2 separate regions of the Homo sapiens genome follow, and region 2 is linked to region 1. The links come from fine-mapping of genetic effects on gene expression. Tissue or cell type: whole blood. Region 1 holds a variant in brackets; the other region holds the start of a gene. All regions are shown on one strand. Distances are from middle to middle.

Region 1 (11,111 bases):
GGCAATGATGACAGGGAGGAAACGATCAAAGCGGACCAGATATTGACTTTATCTTGTGGGAGATGTGGGAGATATATATGTGTGTGTGTGTGTATACACCACACACACACACACACACACACACACACACACACACACAGTGGCACAATCTCAGCTCACTGCAACCTCCGCCTTCCAGATTCAAGCAATTCTGCTGCCTCAGCCTCTCCCGAGTAGCTGGGATTACAGGCACCTGCCACTATACCCGGCTAATTTTTGTACTTTTAGTAGAGGCAGGGTTTCACCATGTTGGCCAGGCAGGTCAGACATGTGTGATATTTTTTGTTGTTTCAAAAGGGGATGACAATGGGAGGCAGCGACTTGAGGGCCAAATGTTGCATTTGTCCTCGTTTCAAGGATTTTTTGGGTTTATCTGAACATTCGTCCTGATTAAAACTTAGGATGCCGTGAAGCAGTGGTCTGATAGGAATTCTCCATGTTTTCATTTTGTTCATGTTTCCTGCTTGCCCTCCAGCTAGACCCAGCGTTGGTATGTGGCCACCTTCCTTTCCCACAAAGCCTTTTTGCTTTCCTATTTTTTCTCATTATCCCCACTGTGCACCAACTCCAGCTGCGGAAGGGACCCAGAAGGGGAGAAGTGTTTTCTTCTAACACCTCTCCTCACCCCTGGGGGCTACAGGCAAGCTGGCTTTAGAAAGAGACAGCAGGGCTGAGAACTTGCTTTTCAGCTCAGCAAACAGGGAGTGGCTTAGAAAGTAGAGACAAAAGAGAAAAGCAAAAACAACTAAAGGAGCAAACGTTTTGTGCAAAAACATTTTTTAGTCGCAGATCCAGAATATAGAGTCTGCCTTCTCCTAGGTAATCTCTTGGAGCCCAGTAATTGAAAGGGGTGGCAAATATCCAATATCTAAATGTAGCTGTCTAAGGGCTAAAGTTAGGGACTGGAATTTACCAACCTCACCCCAGCCTCATTGTGGACTTCTTCCTTCCATGATGTTCGCCTTGACTTGGAACTCTTATATTAAGAGTCATCCAGCAGCGTGACGGACGTCCTTCTGTGTTGTTCGTTCCCATGCAGAAGCCGGTCTCCTTTGCTCTTAACACGCCAAGCCCCTTTTAACCCTTTGCCCCAAGTGTCTTCTGCTCTCCGGAATTCTCTGTCTCCTTTTCTATACCTACCTAAAATCCTATATCCTCCAAGAAAGCAGCCCACACAGAGTGCCCAGAATTCCTAAAATCTTTTTGGTCTTTAAATCTTTTTGTTTTGTTTTGTTTTTGAGACAGAGTCTCGCACTGTTACCAGGGCTGGAGTGCAGTGGTGTGATCTTGGCTCACTGCAACTTCTGCCACCTGGGTTCAAGAGATTCTCCTGCCTCAGCCTCCCGAGTAGCTGGGATTACAGGCACCCGCCATCATGCCCAGCTCATTTTTTGAATTTTTAGTAGAAACAGCGTTTCACCATGTTGGCCAGACTGGTCTCGAACTCCTGACCTTGTGATCCAGCCACCTCGGCCTCCCAAAATGCTGGAATTACAGGCGTAAGCCACCATGCTCGGCCTGGTCTTTAAATCTTTATGAATCATAAAGGAATTATTCATTCCCTTATGTATAACCTCAGGATGTTAAATGTTTGTCACTGAGATTTTAAGTGTTGTAGATTCTTGGAACTCAGAGACACTAAATCATCCTTCTGTGCCTGGCTCAGAGCTGAGGATGTAATAGGATTTCGGAATTGAGATCTAATATAAATCTGGTGCAAAATCTGAGTTCAAGTCCCTGGGAGCTTGGGAGCTTCCTTTGCCTCCTTCCTAAAGGGCAATTCCCCTTTTGTAAAACTAGACTAGTCATCGTACCTACCATTTAGGGATGCTGCAAGGGTTAAACTAGAAAAAGTTTAACATGTTACTGGGATTAGTTATTTTTACTACAAAGTGGTAAGATAGAAGTCAAAGGGTACATTTTATTTGCTTGTTTCTGCTTGTGTTCAACTTTAGCGTTTTCCCTGTCCTTGTGAGTTTTATTTGTATTTATTTTTGAGATGTGAAATATTAAAATGATTTTAAAAGTCAGTTCAGAACAAAAAGAGGATCGGGTGCGGTAGCTCACACCTGTAATCCCAGCACTTTGGGAGATGGAGGCAGGAGGATAGCTGGAGCCCAGGAGTTCAAGACCAGCTGGGCAACATAAGGAACCCACATCTCTGCTAAAAATAAAATAAAATAAACAAAAAGAGATATTCCTAGAAGTCTCATTCCCCCTCATTCCCTTTATTTCCATCCTGTTCCTACCATGCCCTGCAGGTAGCTAATCTCATCCATCTCTGTTTTTTTCTTTTTCTGTTTCTTTTTCCTTGAACAAATAGGTAAATGTGGCCGGCCTGGTGGCTCACGCCTGTAATCCCAGCATTTTGGGAGGCCAAGGCAGGTGGATCACGAGGTCAGGAGATCAAGACCATCCTGGCTAACACAGTGAAACCCCTCTCCACTAAAAATACAAAAAATTAGCCGGGCATGGTGGCGGGCACCTATAGTCCCAGCTACTCGGGAGGCTGAGTCAGGAGAATGGCATGAACCCGGGAAGCGGAGCTTGAAGTGAGCCGAGATCACACCATGGCACTCCAGCCTGGGCAATAGAGCGAGACTCCGTCTCAAAAAAAAAAAAAAAAAAAAAAAAACTAAATGTTCTGTTTCCTCCTCTCAAAGGTATACTTGAGACAATGTCCTTTCGAGACCAGTTTTTCAGGACTCTGGCCATCTTTTGCACATGTTGGTTGGGAGGTTGGGAGGTGCTAGGCGGGCAGGAGCTCTGTGACAGTGGCCTTAGTTGTGTCCTAATCCTCCCCTCATTCTTCACATGACTAGCTATATCATAAATACTTACCCCAGGTCCCAAAGGTGTCTCTATGATTGGTAATGGGGCCACAACCCAGTTCCTGCTACCCAGGAGACTGAGGTTCAGGTTTCCTGCCCTAGTGAAGCATCCCCATCAAGCTCAGCATGGCCTGCTGATTCTCCTGGAGATGGAGGCAATTCAGGTACAAGCCTGGATTTCTGAAGAACCACTCTTGGTGCTTGCAGAGCCACGACAAGTACCAGCCACACTCCTGCAACCTTCACACCTTATGAGAAAACAGCACTTTATGCTTCTAATCTATCTATCTATCCATCCATCCATCTATCTATCTATCTATCTATCTATCTATCTATCTATCTATCTATCTATCTATCTATTTTTTTTAAATGAGATCTGAAGAATCAAGGCCAAAAGACCCCTGGGTGTTTCTCTGTAGGACCTCTTTTTAAGGAGGGAAAAACCTGAGTAAATTAAAGTTCGCAGCCCTAGGGCGGTGGCCCAAGGCAGTGGAGGCCCACCGCTGGAGGTATTCATTGGAAAAAGCAGTGGGAGTGGAGAATTCTGTCTCGGAGTAAGCTGTCCACAAGTCTGCTCGGAGGCTGTGACTCACTCTGAGGAAAAGGAGTGCCCTGTATTCTGGAGGAGGCTGCTTTCTCCAAACAGGAGATCTGTGGCCAAGGAAGGAAATGAAGCAATCCAAGACTGATCAGCAGCCGTGGGGCAGGCAGAGCTAGACGTCCACACCACCCCCAACTCTTTGTGCTTAATATTTGCCCTGTGCCCCCAAGGAATAAACAGCACTACAGAACTGGATTCTGGTGAGAAGGGAATCAGGCCCTATCTTGGGCCCTCTCTGGACCTTTGTTTGCCCATCTCGAAGGTTAAGGGGTGAACTGGACAGGGAGGAAACTGGCAGCCAACTCATGTCCCAACTCAGCCTGTGGCTGCATTTTATCTTACTCACAGTTAGAAAAACAATTCAATTTAGGTGCCTTTGCACAAGGCTCTTTTCTCCAGTTCGGCATAGCCACTACCATTTCCTGCCATCTTACCCTAAGTCAGCTTCACAAATTCAGGCTCCCTGCCTGCCCTTTGAAGTTATTTGAAATGGCAACTCCAGCACTAGCAGCAACCAAGTCCCTTCCAGCTCTGGGGTCCCTCCCGAGGATTCTATGCCTCGGAGAAACAGGGAGTAGAAGCAGGGTGAGCAGGCTGCTCTGGAATGAGAAGGAGATGATCCTTAGTCTCAGGATGCTACAGAGGGTGAGTGTGGCAGCATGCCAGGGCCGAGCATCTGCCAGGCAGCACCATCACGGCTTAGGGAGAACTCAAAAACAGCCTTTTTTTACAGCCTCCTGGTGCATCCTGTTTCTCTGGTGCTGCTGCCACCAGCAAGTGGGCACCATGCCCACCCTGCAGTGGGCAGTGAGGGGGCTAGGTGCCCATCTGTCCCGTCTCCTAAGCAGGTGCTGGGAAGATGGCGCCTGAGCTCAGGCTGCCCTCTGCTGGGTGAGCATAGAAGCTGCTGTGGGGTCTGAGACCACAGAAAATCCCACAGGGGAAGGAGGCACCCCCTCTCAGATTCTCCACATTCGTGAGGTGGGAATGGCTTGATTGTGGGCTGCTGCATCCCTGCCGCCTTCCAAAGAAGACTCAGTCTCTAGGAAGGTAGTCTCAGGTCCTGTAAGTCTGCATTTAATTAAAATCCCTTTCTTTTTTCTTTTTTGTTTTGAGACAGAATCTCGCTCTGTCACCCAGGCTGGAGTGCAGTGGTGCAATTTCAGCTCACTGCAACTTCCGCCTCCTGGGTTCAAGTGATTCTCCTGCCTCAGCCTCCGGAGTAGCTGGGACTACAGGCACCAGCCACCATGCCCAGCTAATTTTTGTGTTTTTCCTAGAGACAGGGTTTTACTACGTTGGCCAGGCTGGTTTTGAACTCCTGACCTCAGGCGATCTGCCAATATCAGCCTCCCAAAGTGCTGGGATTATAGGCATGAGCCACCGTGCCTGGCCCCAAAATCCCTTTTCTGACATAGGGCCTAGCACGACGATGTGCTCAGTGAATATATATTGAATAAATAACTAGGCCAGCGGTTACCTACGGTAGAAACTGCTTCTGTCTTGTTTGGAAGGGCAACTTTATTGTTTTTCTTCCTCAACTTCCTCTAACAGACGCTAACCCCTAATGTCTACTCGGGGTCCTGCCTGGCTCTCCCAATTCCAAGCTGGTGCTCTGGCCTGGGCATCTTCCTCCAGGCTCCCCGGGGCATGGCTTCTCCTAGTTCCTCAGCCCCAACCCAGGTTCCTGCTGAGATGAGCACAAATCCCCCTTTTCTCTCATCATTTCCTTCTGCCTTCCCTTTGAACACCTGGATTCTTGTTCCACCTTGAGCTCACTGGACTTAGAGATATTCTCTCCTTCCTGAGGCAGCCACAGGGTGTTTCTAGCCCACTTCACTATTAACTGTTGTTACTTGACACATGGGCACGTGTCCATGGGGTGGGGTGGGCAGCAGGAAGGGCTGGGAACTTCTGGTTTCTAGGAGGGAACTCTGGGGCCCCCCTAGGGTTGTCCTGGGATAGGACCAGGCCCAGTTTGGGGCTGGGGTAGGGCTGCATGAGACTGAGCTGAATGCCCCATCAAAGATGAACGTTTCTTCAAGCATATTTCAGGCGTTCTCACTTAGCTCTACACAATGATCTCACCAGATTTGGGGAGGGGGAATGGGGCTCCCTCAGGTTTTTCCTATTATACCTATTTCTCTTCCAATTT[A/T]TATTTCCTAATCAACAATAGAGATCTGTTTTTGATTAGCTAGATGAGATACATAGGAAAAATTCGGCTGGGCGCTGTGGCTCACACCTGTAATCCCAGCACTTTGGGAGGCTGAGTCGGGTGGATCACAAGGTCAAGAGTTCAAGACCAGCCTGGCCAACATGGCCAACATGGTGAAACCCTCCCCCACTCCCGCCCTGTCCCTACTAAAAATACAAAAATGAGCCGGGCATGGTGATGCATGCCTGTAATCTCAGCTACTCGGGAGGCTGAGACAGGAGAATTGCTTGAACCCCGGAGGCAGAGGTTGCAGTGAGCCAAGATTGCGCCAGTGCACTCCAGCCTGGGTGACACAGCAAGACTCCATCTCAAAAAAAAAAAAAAAAAAAGGAAAAATTCAAAGAGCTATAGAGTCAGTAAAAAGTTTTAGTTGCCCCACCCATTCCTCCATTTCCCTTGCCCAGAGACAGTCTGCTGCCATTTTCTTGTGGATCCTTCTAGAAACAGTATCATGAACATAGTTATATGTATATAGGCATGCATTCAGTCAGTATTTGAACACCTGCTATGATTCAGTTACTGTTCTTCTATAAAACATATAAAAATCCTTGTTCTAGAGAACCTATATTCTAACAGGAGGCAAGGAGTCAGAGAATAAATGAGGTAAATCAAATATATGACATGTTAGATGTTGATACATGCAATGGAAAAAACTTACACAGGGTAGGTGAGTTGGGGTGTGGTCCCGAGTGCCTTTCCCCTGGGCTGCCTCTCCTCACCCTGAGAAACCTGGGGCCACACAGCTGGTGCAGCTCTCAATTCTGGTTTCTCACACGCAGGAACCCCACCCTGCCCTGGTGAGTCACGCCTTCACTTGGCTTCCTGATGTTGGAGGGCAGGCCTCCCTTACTGCCTCAAGGCTGTTCATCATCTTCAGCTTATATCCTGGGTCAACGTTGATGACTACTTTGCTGGCTTTAATTAAGTGGTCTATGGGCCAGGAGAATAAGGATCAACATCATCTGGGGACTTGTCAGAAATGCAAATTCTCAGGCCCCACCCCAATACTACTGGATCAGAAACTCTAGGTTGGGGTCCAGCAATCTGCGTGGTTTTTGTTTTAGTTGATGTTATTGTTTTAGAGACAGGGTCTTGCTAGGCCGCCCAGGCTGGAGTGCAGTGGCTATTCACAGGCACAATCATAGCATGCTGTAGCCTCAAACTCCAGGGCTCAAAAGATCCTTCTGCCTCAGCCTCCCAAGTAGCTAGGACTACAGGCGCACCCTACTGCGCCCAGCTGAGCAATCTGTGTTTTAAAAAGCCTTCCGGATAGCTCTGATGCATGATAAAGCTTTTATGAACCTCTGCTCTGCGGAAATGCCTTACCATCTCACATGCCTACCAGCTATGGTCATAAGCACACATTTTATATAATCGTACCAAGTTTTGAAAAATCTTTTCCAAGTTAAATCCTAGACAGGTGTACAAATTATATGTTAAGAAGTAACAGATAAATCTTACAGCCCAATTATTTGAAAATAAGAATCAAGTCATTTGAGTCTGGGCCTTCGAAATTTGACATGTAAGAATATTCATAGAAAATTGACTTAGTCCTAAATTCTTATCCCTAAATCCTGTTTTGTTTTGTTTTTTAATTTTTTTTTAAATTTTTTTTGGTTTTTTTTTTTTGAGTCAGAGTCTCGCTCTGTCGCCCAGGCTGGAGTGCAATGGCACAATCTCAGCTCACTGCAACCTCTGCCTCCCGGGTTCAAGCAATTCTCCTCGCACCTCAGCCTTTTGAGTAGCTGGGATTACAGGCGCCCGCCATCATGCCCGGCTAATTTTTGCATTTTTAGTAGAGATAGAGTTTCACCATATTGGCCAGGCTGGTCTCGAACTCCTGACCTCATGATCTGCCCACCTAGGCCTCCCCAAGTGCTGGGATTACAGGTGTGAACCACTGCACCCAGCCCCAAATCCTGTTATCTAAAAGATGACAAAATTTGAGCCTAGGCAACATATCAAGACCCCATCTCTACAAATTTTTTTTAAGAAATAGCCAGGTGGCTGGGCGTGGTGCCTCACCCTGTAATCCCAGTACTTTGGGAGGCAAAGGTGGGTGGATTACGAGGTCAGGAGTTCAAGACCAGCCTGACCAATATACTAAAAATACAAAAATTAGCTGAGCATGGTGGCACACGCCTGTAGTCCCAGCTGCTTGGGAGGTTGAGGCAGGAGAATCACTTGGACCTGGGAAGTGGAGGTTGCAGTGAGCCGAGATCAAGCCACCGCACTCCAGCCTGGGTGACAGAGCGAGACTCCGTCTCAAAAAAAAAAAAAAAAAAAAGAAAAGAAAAGAGAAAAGAAATAGTAAGGCATGGTGGTGCATGCTTATAGTCCCAGCTACTCAGAAAGCTGAGGCAGGAAAATCACTTGAGCCCAGAGGTTCAAGCCTTCAGTGAGCTATGACTGCCACTGCATTCCATCCTGGGCAGCAAAGAGAGTCTCTGTCTCTACTGAAAAAAAAAAAAAAAAAAAAGAAAAGAAAAGAAAAAAAAAAGAAAAGAAAAAATTTGGAAATAAATTAAAAGTGCATAAAAGTTATTAAAATACTGCTAAATAGTAATAGATAATTTATCTTCCTCTTTACACTCTGCAGAAGAAACGGTGAATGGTACTTATTAGGCAATGTGTAAAGCACTTGACGTGTGTAATCTTATCACATCTGCACAAATGACACACGATCCAAAGAACATTTTTGGCTCCAACTTACAGATGAGTAAGCAAGCTCAGGGAGGATCTTTCCTGATAGATATTTAGCAGCAGAGAGGGCCAGGAATTGGGTTCTGTAATCTCAGTCTGTGCTCATTTTACTGGAAGCCACATGTGTAGATACTGGTATTATCTGAGCCTAATCCCTGGAATCTCTATGGTCAATTGGAGAGAGGCTTAGGGAGGTCAGGGGATAGACAGGTCTTGGCCAGAGTCCACCTCACAGTGGGTCAGGTAGGATCCCAGGCACACCGTGTGGCTATTTTGCCAGCCTTGCTGTCCTTATCCGAGGAATGCGGTCTGTCATGGTGGGAATGCCCAGTTAGAATCCTTGAAAGGGCCACCTACAACCAAGATAATAACCTAAAAACAATTCTGTGGAGGAAGACGCGGTCGTAGGTGCTGAGGATTTCTCGTTCAGACGCTCCTGCTCCTGACTTACCGCTGTTCACTCTCGCCGAGGAACAAGTCGGTCAGGAAGCCGCGCAGCAGCCTTGGCTTTTAAGGATACCGGAAAACACCCGTGGAGCCGGAGGTGGCCATTCACCAAATTCGAATCACCCTAACAAGCCGCAATGTAAAATCCCTGGAAAAGGTGTGTGATGACTTAATCAGAGGCGCAAAGGAAAAGAATCTCAAAGTGAAAGGACCAGTTCGAATGCCTGCCAAGACTTTGAGAATCACTACAAGAAAAACTACTTGTGGTGAAGATTCTAAGACCTGGGATCATTTCCAGATGAGAATTCACAAGCGACTCATTGACTTGCACAGTCCTTCTGAGATTGTTAAGCAGATTACTTCCATCAGTATTGAGCCAGGAGTTGAGGTGGAAGTTACCATTGCAGATGCTTAAGTCAACTATTTTAATAAATTGATTACCAGTTGTTAAAAAAAAAACAATTCTGTGCCTGATGACATTGCAGAAATTAGTTCCATAAAGATTTGAAAGATGCAGGGCTACTGATTTCCATAACACCATTATTACCTCACCTATTTGGTCAGTGCAAGAGGCAAATGTTGGTGGAGAATGAAGGTGGATTAACACAAACATATTCATGGGTTTGCTTATCCCGCCCACAGCACTTCCTCCAGCACCATATATTCATAGATTTACAAATGCTTATTCAATTGCAATGATGTCTTACATACAAATTATTTGTCCATGGGCATGTTTTCATGATAAAAGATGTTAAGCTATGGGCCATGGCTATGGAGTTCCTGCTTACTACATGCCACATCTCCTAGCAGCAGGCAGCTTCACAGAAGGTAGTGGAAAGACCTGCCGCAGCCTTAATTATGGTGGCAGTGTGGGCTCCACATCTACGACTTTACAATGTGTAGTGAACCTTTGGATACCTCTCAGAATTTCCCATCAGGACCTAAGCAGTGATTCCATGAGCTGCTAGAGTATGGACTGCTAATGATTCACAGGTGAAACCTCTTCCAAGAATGTCCTTGGCCCACAGGAACAGTCTTACCCAAGGTCATGCACCCTTCCCAGTGTAGGGACACACAGCCTGTTCTAAGGATATGTAATACTTCTGTCCATAATGGCAAGTGATGTTGCCTTTGGAAAAATGCTACAGTGAGAACAGCATTAGTGGGATGAGAGCACATCCAGGACCCACTGGGCTCCCTGAGCCCAGCCATGTGGTGTGGGTGAAGCAGTACAGGCGGGGAAAAGACCACTGCACTGAGGAAAAGAGCTGGCAGGGTCCAGCGTGCTTAAGAACAGTGTCCAGGCCAGGCACAGTGGCTCATGCCTGTAATCGCAGCACTTTGGGAGGCCGAGGCGGGCAGATCACGAGGTCAAGAGATCAAGATCATCCTGGGCCACATGGTGAAACCTCATCTCTATTAAAAATACAAAAATTAGCTGGGCATTGTGGCGTGTGCCTGTAGTCCCAGCTACTCGGGAGGCTGAGGCAGGAGAATCGCTTGAACCCGGGAGGTGGAGGTTGCAGTGAGCCAAGATCAAGTCCCTGCACTCCAGCCTGGCATCAGAGTGAGACTCCATCTTAAAAAAAAAAAAAAAAAAGCAGTGTCCGGCAGACTGTACAGACTGCACTCTGCTCAGGCCAGTTAGCTCTAATGATCCTTTTCAGCTACAAGTGCCAGTGACTGGCTACTCTGTAGAATGGGGTCATCAGGCATCAAAAGAGTCACATAATGGCATTACAAGATGGCCAGACATCCCTTGATCCCAGAGGAACATTTTGTGCCAGCACCTCCAGCTTCATGGAGGCATTGATACACCAAGTCCCTGAGGATGCCTGAAGCTGGTTCACAGATGGAGCCCGCTAAGTTACAGGCTGGCGGATTGTTCTTGGCCCTTGCAGCTGTGCAGCCACAGGGGAAAACAAAAGCTGTTTAAAATTTTGCACACAAAAAAAAGGTACTACCCAGTGGACAGAGTTGGGGACAGTGGTGGTTTTCCTGAAAAACCCCTCCAAAATGCTCCTTGCTGCTTTTTCATTGATTTAGAGACGGTAGCCAATGGGCTGGCAGTGCGGGCCTGTGCCTGGAAGCAAGACTAAATGATCAAGTCTCAATCCCTATGGCAGTGAACATTATGGTATCAGACTTTTTTTTTTTTTTCTGAGATGGAGTCTCCCTCTGTTGCCCAGGCTGGAGTGCAGTGGTACGATCTCAGCTCACTGCAGCCTCCATTTCCCAGGTTCAAGTGATTCTGTTGCCTCAGCCTCCCAAGTAA
Region 2 (9,192 bases), 41 kb after region 1:
GGAGCCTATGTAGACACCACAGAGGGAGACCCTGCAGAGCCCACAGTCTGGAGGGAGAAGGGTGTTGGGCAATGACCTTGGCCCTGAGCCATGTGAAAAAGTCAGCTGTGGTGAAGTGTCATGGGAGGCAGGGAACGCGCCATTCTGCTATATTTACTGAGCACCTGCCGTGTACCCAGCAGGCAAAACTCTCTGACTCAAGCAGGGAGAGACGGACAATAAATATGTCAACATCCAAGAAATTCGATGAAGAAAATTTAATCAGGGTAAAGAGCAGAGGTGTGTGCGGAATGGGAGGGACATGTACCACTTTGATTGTCAGCCACAAAAACACAGGACATTCTGTAAAGTCTGTATGCCATGCTGCAGGAGATGAGAATGTTTGTGTTCGCTATTGTGTAGACCAGACAACAAATCTCACTGCCCCTAGCTAGGAAGGAAAAACTGTAACTGGGATGCCATCCCCAGGAAGGAGGGGATGATGAGGAGATGTGACCTAATTCCCTTTTTTTTTTTTTTTTGGAAGACAGAGTCTCGCTCTATCGCCCAGGCTAGAGTGCAATGGTGCAATCTTGGCTCACTGCAACCTCTGCCTCCTGGGTTCAAGCAATTCTCCTGCCTCAGCCTCCCAAGTAGCTGGGATTACAGGTACCTGCCACCACACCTGGCTAATATTTGTATTTTTAGTAGAGATGGGGTTTCACCATGTTGGCCAGGCTGGTCTCAAACTCCTGACCTCAGGTGATCCACCCACCTCGGCCTCCCCAAGTGCTGGGATTACAGGCATGTGCCACCGCACCCGGCCCTAATTCCCATTTTTAAAAGCTTCTTTGGCTGCCAGGGAAGAGAAGACTGTCAGGGCAGGGGTGGCCACAAGGAGACCAGAGAGAGGCTGGTTGCTGGTCCAGGGAGGGAAGCAGCAAATGGCTCTAAGATAGGAGGATGGGGTCTTTACTGTTCAGATGCCCAAAAAACTTGAAAGACAGAAATGTCCCCAGCAGCTGACTGAGAACAGTATGTGATCGTTAGGTAACGTTTCCTGAGGAGAATTAAGTTCCTTCCGGCTCTCAGGGGTCGTAGTTTCTGCCCTAGGGGTCTGAACTATTCACTTATCCTTGCCTTACAGAAACAATTAATGCCTATAGGGCCTGGTAAGAAGGGCATCACCCCAATCTTCAGCCAAGAGCTCCCTTGACACAGGCATAGGATGTGAGCCTTGATGGAGGGGCTCAGGGACCTTGGGAACTTGAAGACAGGGGCGGGAAGTGGGTGGGACATCAGGGAGGTTTTCTGAGAGACGTGCCGTCTAAGCTGGAATAGGAATTAGCCAGGAGATGGATTAGGAAGGGCAGTCCCAGCAGAGGGAAACAGCTGGACAAAAGCAGCGGAGACGTGCACTTGAGTAACTGCATGTTCACTGGGGCTGGAACATAGAGCTTAAGGGGGAAAGAGAGGAGAGGTGGGACCACGGGTCGCAGGGACTGCATCCCACAGGGCCCTGTGGGCTGTGCTGGCATTAAGACTTGGGCTGGTGGAATTGAGAACCATGGAAAGGTTTGTAAGTAGAAGCAGAACATGGTCAGATTTCCTCTGAGATCAGTCTAGGATGATCACCAAGAATGACTGGAAAGTCAAGATGGAGCATGGGGCCCAGGAGAAGGATGGCCAGGTGGCCCAAGAGAGAAGCCAGGGCTGCAGGGGCAGAGAGAGGGCCCCAGGAGAGGGTACTCACAGGGGCTGGGGAAAGATGTGACTTTCACCTTTGGAGCTCACAGTCCAGTGAGGAGGGTAGTAAACATCTAAAAGAGCATTTTTCAACCTTTTTCCGTTACTGCCTCTCCTCAAGGAGTCATTTTAGACTTTTGTTCTAATTGCCCAACCATGAAACTTACATATCACAGATATACTGTATATCTGGTTTACATATTAGATACATTTAAAAGAGTGACCTTTTTTTGGCCACCCCAGCCCAGCCCCTCTGCAGTTGCAGATGAGGAGTAGTGAGAAAGAAGAGAGAGGGTGAGGCAGGAGGCAGATGAAGTCAGCCTAGGGAAGAACACAGAGAACCCAGCAAGGACCTGGACTTTTGTTCTCAATGTGACACAAAGCCACTGGAGAGCTTTAAGCATAGGTGTGATGAGACCAGATTTCAGTCCTTACATGCTCACCCAGGCCGCTTTATGGAGGCAAGAAAAGAGGGAGGAAGGGAGACCAGGGAGAAGGCTGGGGCAGGTATCCTGGAGGTGGAGGGTGAGGGTGGTGGTGGATTAAAGCAGGGGCTATATGGGGCAAGAAGTGATGATGTTCTGGATTCTGGATGCATGGCAAAGGCCTGTGTGGTGATGGGGTGGGGCTGAGGATGACTCCAAAGTCTTTACCCTGAACAACCAGAAGGATGAAGGGGATGTTATGGAGAAAAGAGATGAACTGAGGTGAGCCCCTCTTACCTCCACAGTTGCAGGTGAGCGTGGCGGCTGCACCTGCTCAGCGCACTGCAGGAAGCGGCGCATATGCTCTGCACAGTTGCCCACAGCTGCCTCGTTCTGTCGAAGACACTCCTCGAAGGCCTCAAAAGGCTGAGCACAGGCCTGGCGGATCTGGCGGATGATTGGGCTGTGGGGGTAGGGCAGTTCAGCCCCTGGGAGATTCCCACCCCACTGCCCACCCCCCACACTGTCTCATACTTGCCCGCACTCACTGGGAGGATGTGCACTGGGCAATGCTCATCTTAAGGTAGTGACAGTCCCGCTGCCAGGATTCCGGCTTGGCCGCCACACACTGGCCATACTGCTCCAGCTCCCGGCCACAGTAGCGAGCGGTGACCTCTAGGGCCGCCTGCCTGTGGGACAGGATGGGCTGAGGATCATTCCAGGCAGTAGGCAAGCAAGGGAATTCTTTTTTTTTTTTTTATTTTTTAGAGACAGGGTCTCACTGTGGCCCAGGCTGGAGTGCAGTGGCACGATCATAGCTCACTGTAGCCACCAACTCCTGGATTCAAGTGATCTTCCTGCCCCAACCTCCTAAGTAGCTGGGACCACAGGCATGAGCCACCATGCCCAGCTAATTTTTTATGTTTTGTAGAGACAGGGTCTTGCTATGTTGCCGAGGCTGGTATTGAACCCCTGGGCTCAAGCGATCCCCCTGCTTAGACCTCCCAAAGTGCTAGGATTACAGGCATAAGCTATGGTGCTCCGCAAAGAAAGGGAGTTCTGGTCTGGGTCTGAAGTAGGACTAGGAGTTCAGGGCAGATGTGGGAATCTGAAGGATCCTGAGATGGTGCCAAAGAAGTGGAGAGGTGAGGCCCAGCCCTGGGGCTTGTAAAGCAGGAGGGGAGCTTCTGGGGAGAGAGTGGAGGTTCTAAAACAAAGTCTGATTAATGTAAGGTAGGCCTTCAGGGTCCTAGAAGACAGGCCTTGAAATCCAGGCATCCCCCAGTAGGCCTGGGGATCATGCACAGAAGACTTGGGGCCTTAGAAGAAAGATCTAGAATTCCAGGGAGAGCTTGAGAGCCCTTAATGGGTTTGGGGGTTCTAAAAGTGAGGTTTAGAGCTCCAAGAGGTGGGGTCTCAGGTCCTGGGGAAGAGTGTCTTAGCCAAAGAGTCTTCAAGATGAAACCTAAGGCCCTGGTGCGGGACTCAAGGTCCCAGGGGCGTGAAGTCTGGAAGCCCTGGATGAGGTTGGTGCTCTGGGAATCCTGGGCAAGGTCAGAGTGGTCTAGGAACAAGTCTGTGGACCCTATAGGTGAGGACTGGGGTCCCAGGCAGATCTGGAAGGTTCAAAAGGTAAAGTTTGGTGATCAAGGGGGAGGAACCTGGAGCTCTGAGGATGGGTGTAGGAGTCATAGAGGTCCCTAAATAAGTCTGTAGTCTTAGGATTTCAGTGTGAAGGCCGGACCTGGGGTACTGGGGGCAGAGATTGGGTGAAGAGTGACTGGACCGAAGTCCTAAGCAGCGCGAGAGGGGGCGAGGCCTAAACGCTTAGAGGGCGGGGCTTGGGCATGCGGAGGGTTGGAGCTCGTGAGCGAAGGCGCTGAATCCTGAGGGTCAGATCTCCAAGAAGGAGGGAGGCTGGTCCTAGTTCCCGAGGTCCTAGACTAGGTCTAGATCACTGGGTAAAAGAAGGGGAGCGGCAGCACGTATGGGGTAGGCGCTCTCACTACTCACATCTCGAGACCTTTGCCGGCGTAGGGCTGTCCGGGGGGAACGACCCGCCTTTTCCGGTATCGGTTGTCATGGCGGCGCCCAGCCCAGCCTGGTTTTTTCCGGTAGCCAATTGAACTAACAACCCCGTTCCCTTTAGGACTAATCTGTCACGGCGGCGCCCTACCTCTTCTTCCGGCCCGGCTCGTCATGGCGGCGCCCTGAGTAGCCACTTCCGCCCTCTTCTGGCTAAATTGCTTCATCCCTATTTCCGGCTTGCCATGGCAGCGCTCGGGGTTTAACGGAAGTAAGCAATGGAAAGTATGGTGGTGCCTCGGGTCCAAAGAGAATGCGCCGCTGAGTTGCGCGGCACCTGACGGGATTGAGCCTCAGACACAAGCGCTCCAAATCTCCGACTGTAGCTGGTGGGAAGCGCCTGCTGTTGCTGCAGCGTCTCAACATGTTGTTCCCATTTTCGTTGGGTGCTGTAGCGGTAGGCTGTTGGGCTCAGGGATAGGGGGCCTGATTCCTAACGCCGCGCTGCCACCATCGGCCTTGCGCAGACGCTGATAATCCCCCTGGCACCCAGGTTCATGCGAGCGCTTGGAACAGGAGGGAAGAGGGAGTCAAACCAAGAGCCGAACTAATTCGGCTTGGGCCTGCCATTTACCCAGCCTGGGACCCAGACGTTTCCCCATCCCTTAGCGTACGCCAGGACAGACATGGCGTTTAATCCTGACTCCATGAGACTATCAAGCTAGTTACTTCCTCTCTTTGTAATTAATTCCTCCTAATGTAGCAACATTTCCCCCTTCCTTCTCATCTGTCTTAAAAGTGTGAGGTTAGACCTGGGCGTGAGTTTCCCCACATAAGAGACTGGATATCCCCTGGTCAGAGAACTGAGCATCAGTCCTGCCGTTTCGTTTGCAGATCTTTCAAGACTCTAGTCAAAATGAGCAGAACATTTTGCAGTTAATCATAGAGTTGAAGATGAACGAGAAGATGAACGAGAGCTACTTGATTGTGAACTAGTAACGACCACTTGGAGTCGCAGTGTGTCTGTAAAATGATGATGACAGTGACATCATAGAGGACATAGTGCAAGTGAACAGTTTGATACTGAGCTTGGAGCCTCAGTAGTTCTGGATAAGTGAGAGCTGTACGGGAGGTTGTAACCATGAGCTACCCTGGTTGGCAGTTGACATCCGAGGACCAGCACTGGTCATCGCACAGAAAGAAAACTTTACACCTTGAGATCCCTCCATTCTTCTTAAACTTCCAAGTGTATGTTTGATGGGAGAAGAGGGGAAGGGATCAACATTTAAAGGCTCTGGAAGGAGTCAGATAACTGTTTTTGGCTTCAAATGTAGAATGAATCCCTAGATTTTCCTCTACTGAGAGAATGAAATCTTAACCCATTCCGTTCCCTTGTTGGTACTCAGAAACGGATACCCCAAAGATGCATTTTGACATGCTGAAAGGCCTTAGAAGCTGCCTTAGAAGATCTGTCTAACCTTGTCTTGTTGGTGTGTGGAAGTGGGAATGCCCACAGGTGCACAGGGAGGGAGTTTCTGAAATTATCTGACCGAGAAAGCAAAAAAAAAAAATCAATTGTCTTAAACCCGGTTTCTAGGGATCTCATTAAAGAACTAGGAAAAATTAACCACCTGTTAACAGAAAAACCAAACTGAAATGTTTTAAAGAGATTTATTTTGAGCCAATATGAGTGACCATGGCCTGGGGAACACAGGCTCAAGAGGTCCTGAGAAAGTGTGCCTGAGACAGTAGAATTACAGTTTGGTTTTGTACATTTTAGGTGGACAGGAGTTACAGACAAAGACATAAATCAGTACATGGAAGGTACAGATTGTGTTCAGCTGGGTGCAGTGGCTCACGCCTGTAATCCCAGCACTTTGGGAGGTCGAGGTGGGCGAATCGCTTGAGGTCAGGAGTTCGAGACCAGCCTGGCTAACATGGTGAAACCGTGTCTCTACAAAAAATACAAAAAATTAGCCAGGGATGGTGGCAGGCACCTGTAGTCCTGGAGCTACTCAGGAGGTTGAGGCACGAGAATTGCTGCGGAGGTTGTAGTGAGCCGAGACCACACCACTGCACTCCAGCCTGGGTGACAGAGCATGACTCTGTCTCAAAAAAAAAAAAAAAATTCTACGGTATTTTTATAATACATTTTGTAGTACCACTTATAACCACTTGGGTGCGTGGGTTGCCCATTAAATCAAACAGTTTACAGTTCACCCTTGAACAACATGGATTTAAACTGTACTGGTCCACTTATACTCAGATTTTCTTCTGCCGCTGTCACTCTGAGACAGCAAGACCAACCCCCCTTCCTCTCCTCAGCCTACTCAATGTGAAAAGGACAAGGATGAAGGCCTTTATGATGATCCACTTCCACTTAATGAATAGTATATTTTATCTTCCTTACGATTTCCTTAATAACAGTTTCTTCTCTCTACTTTACTATTGCAAGAATACAGTATATAATGCATATAACATACAAAATATGTGTTCATCTATGTCATCAGTAAGACTTCAGATCGACAGTAGGCTATTAATAGTTAAGTTTTGGGGGAGTCAAAAGTTATATGTGGATTTTCTACTGCATTGTTTAAGGGTCAACTGTAGATTCAACGACTACCTAGGATTGTAGAGTTGACTGATAGCACTGGGACTGATGATAACATCATAACCTGTAAGAAGTGTCAACAATGGTGATGGACCCCCAGCAACCCTGGAGTGGGGATGTCTAAAGATAGATGTCATCCACCAGGCAGGAGTTGGTGCTGCCAGTGTGTCATGTACTGCAGCCTCTTTTATTTATTTATTTATTTTTATTTATTTTTTGAGACAGCATCTCGCTTTGTCACCCAGGCTGGAATGCAGTGGCACAATCTCGGCTTACTGCAACCTCCACCTCCCGGGTTCAAGCGATTCTTCTGCCTCAGCCTCCCAAATAGCTGGGACTACAGGTGCGCACCACCACGCCAGGCTAATTTTTGTATTTTTAGTAGAGACGGGGTTCCATCATATTGGCCAGGCTGGTCTCAAAGTCCTGACCTCGTGATCCGCCCATGTCGGCCTCCCAAAGTGCTGAGATTACAGGTATGAGCCACAGCGCCTGGCCTGCAGTCCCTTTTACTACAACAAATATGGGAAAGAGTCACAGGTGTGGCATACGGTGGTGGCTTCTGCGTTAGAAACATAGGCCAAGTACAGTGGCTCATGCCTATAAATCTCAGCACTTTGGGAAACTGAGGTGGCCAGACTGCTTGAGCCCAGGAGTTTGAGATCAGCCTGGGCAACATGGCGAAATTCTGTCTCTACAAAAAGTACAAAAGTTACCCGGGTGTGGTGATGTCATAGGTAGTAGATTTATCCTTCAAACATCAACAACTAAAAAATCTGGACAAAATAGGAGACAACAGAGTTCAGACATTGGAAACAAGCATTGTAGCACAGTGGTCCCCAAGAGAAAGGAGACAAATGAAGTGACCTTAGTGGCCCGGCTTATGTCTGGAGAGTTAGTTTCTAGGCTACATAGCCCAGGGGTGTCCCTGAGTTGGGACAAAGTTGAGAATTTGGAGAGGCCAAGGCAGCTAGTTTGTAAGGCAGGGTACCAGAGAGTAGCGCAGCACAGACCTGCAAAGGGTTTCCTGCACGTGTAGCGCACAGCATGCCTGTGAACACACTCCTGGAAACCAAGGGAACTACCAGGAAGGTGCAGGCAGAGCAATCCCCGGAGCCATAGTGGAGACCATCACTGTGCACTGGCTAAACTACTCAAAGATACTGCCTGTCTAGTGAGGCAAAATTAGCCCTAATGGCCGCTCTGGTCTCACCTAAGTAAGCTCAGAAACACTGAAGCAAGCTCTCAGTTCGAAGGAAAATGGAAATCTGGCATATGAAATCAAGATCTCCAGATACAGTAAATATAACTCTTATGACAAAATAGCACAAAGGCCAAGAGACAGGAAAGTGTGTGCTGTTGCTAAGTTGTTCTACTACCTGTGAAGTGGTAGAATATTACATAAAAGTGTGACAAGTCTAAAGATGTACACTAGAAATTTTAAGAGAAACAACAAAAAATGAAAATGGAGGTAGGGTTAATAAGCCAACAAAGGAGATAAAAATGAAATAATACAAAATAAATTAGCCCCGCACAAGTATGGCCATCTGATTTAAACCCTGTCACTCCAGCTGGAGTGCAGTGGCGTGATCACGGCTCACTGCAGCCTCGACTCCCAGGCTTAGACGATACTCCCACCTCAGCCTCCTGGGGAGCTGGGACTACAGGTGCACACCACCATGCCTGGCTAATTTTTTTAGTAGAGATGGGGTCTGGCTGTGTTGCCCAGGCTGGTCTCAAACTCCTGGGCTCAAGCAATCATCCCACTTCAGCTTCTCAAAGTGCAGGGATTACAGGCGTGAGCCAGTGCACCCGGCCTATGGCCATCTGATTTTTGACAGAAGTGCAGAAGTAATTCAATAGAGAAAGGATCGTTTTCAAGTAACAGTCCTGGAGCAATTGGATATCTATTGGCAAAAAAAAAAAAAAAAAAAAAAAAAAAAATCTTGATCTAAACCTTACACTTTGTACAAAAATGAACTCTTAAGTGGAAAATGGATCATAGATTTAAATATAAAGCATAAAACTATAAAACCTTTAGAAAATAACATATGAGAAAATCTTTGGGCTAGGTGAAGAGTTCTTAGACACAACACCAAAAACCTGTCAATTGGGCTTCATCAAAATTTAAATTTGTTTCTCTGCAAAATACCTGTGAAGAGGATGAAAAGACAAACTATGAACTGGGAGAAAATATTTGCAAAGCACTTGTATGACAAAGGCTTTATATCTGGAATATATAATGAAGTCTTGAAATTCAACAGTAAGAAGACAAACAATCCAATTAAAAAATGAACAGCAGACATTTCACTGAAGATACACAGATGGCAAATAAACACATGAAGAGATGTTCAACATTTTCAGCCATTAGAGAAATGCAAATTAAAGCCACAATGAGATATCACT

What was found. PIP is the estimated chance that this variant, and not a neighbour inherited with it, causes the effect.
Region 2: it holds the start of CHCHD5, and the variant in region 1 is fine-mapped to the expression of CHCHD5 in whole blood (TOPMed, PIP 0.93).

What each region holds. Positions count from the first base shown.
Region 1 is chr2:112,619,949-112,631,059 of GRCh38, reverse strand. It overlaps the pseudogene RPS20P11. Among named protein-coding and RNA genes, the nearest start is that of SLC20A1-DT, 19 kb to the left of the region's middle. RefSeq lists enhancers at 1-410, 6,441-6,580. The variant A/T (reference allele first, on the strand shown) is at 5,627.
Region 2 is chr2:112,579,621-112,588,812 of GRCh38, reverse strand. CHCHD5 (coiled-coil-helix-coiled-coil-helix domain containing 5) reads right to left here and starts at 4,204. Exons shown (of 4, transcript NM_032309.4): 1 at 4,164-4,204; 2 at 2,699-2,839; 3 at 2,448-2,613. The coding sequence starts at 4,165. POLR1B (RNA polymerase I subunit B) reads right to left here. Exons shown (of 15, transcript NM_019014.6): 15 at 8,995-9,192. LOC101927330 (a long non-coding RNA gene) reads left to right here and starts at 3,541. Exons shown (of 2, transcript XR_923204.3): 1 at 3,541-3,676; 2 at 4,300-5,826. RefSeq lists enhancers at 4,311-4,480, 3,778-4,529, 3,796-4,995 and a silencer at 6,227-6,521.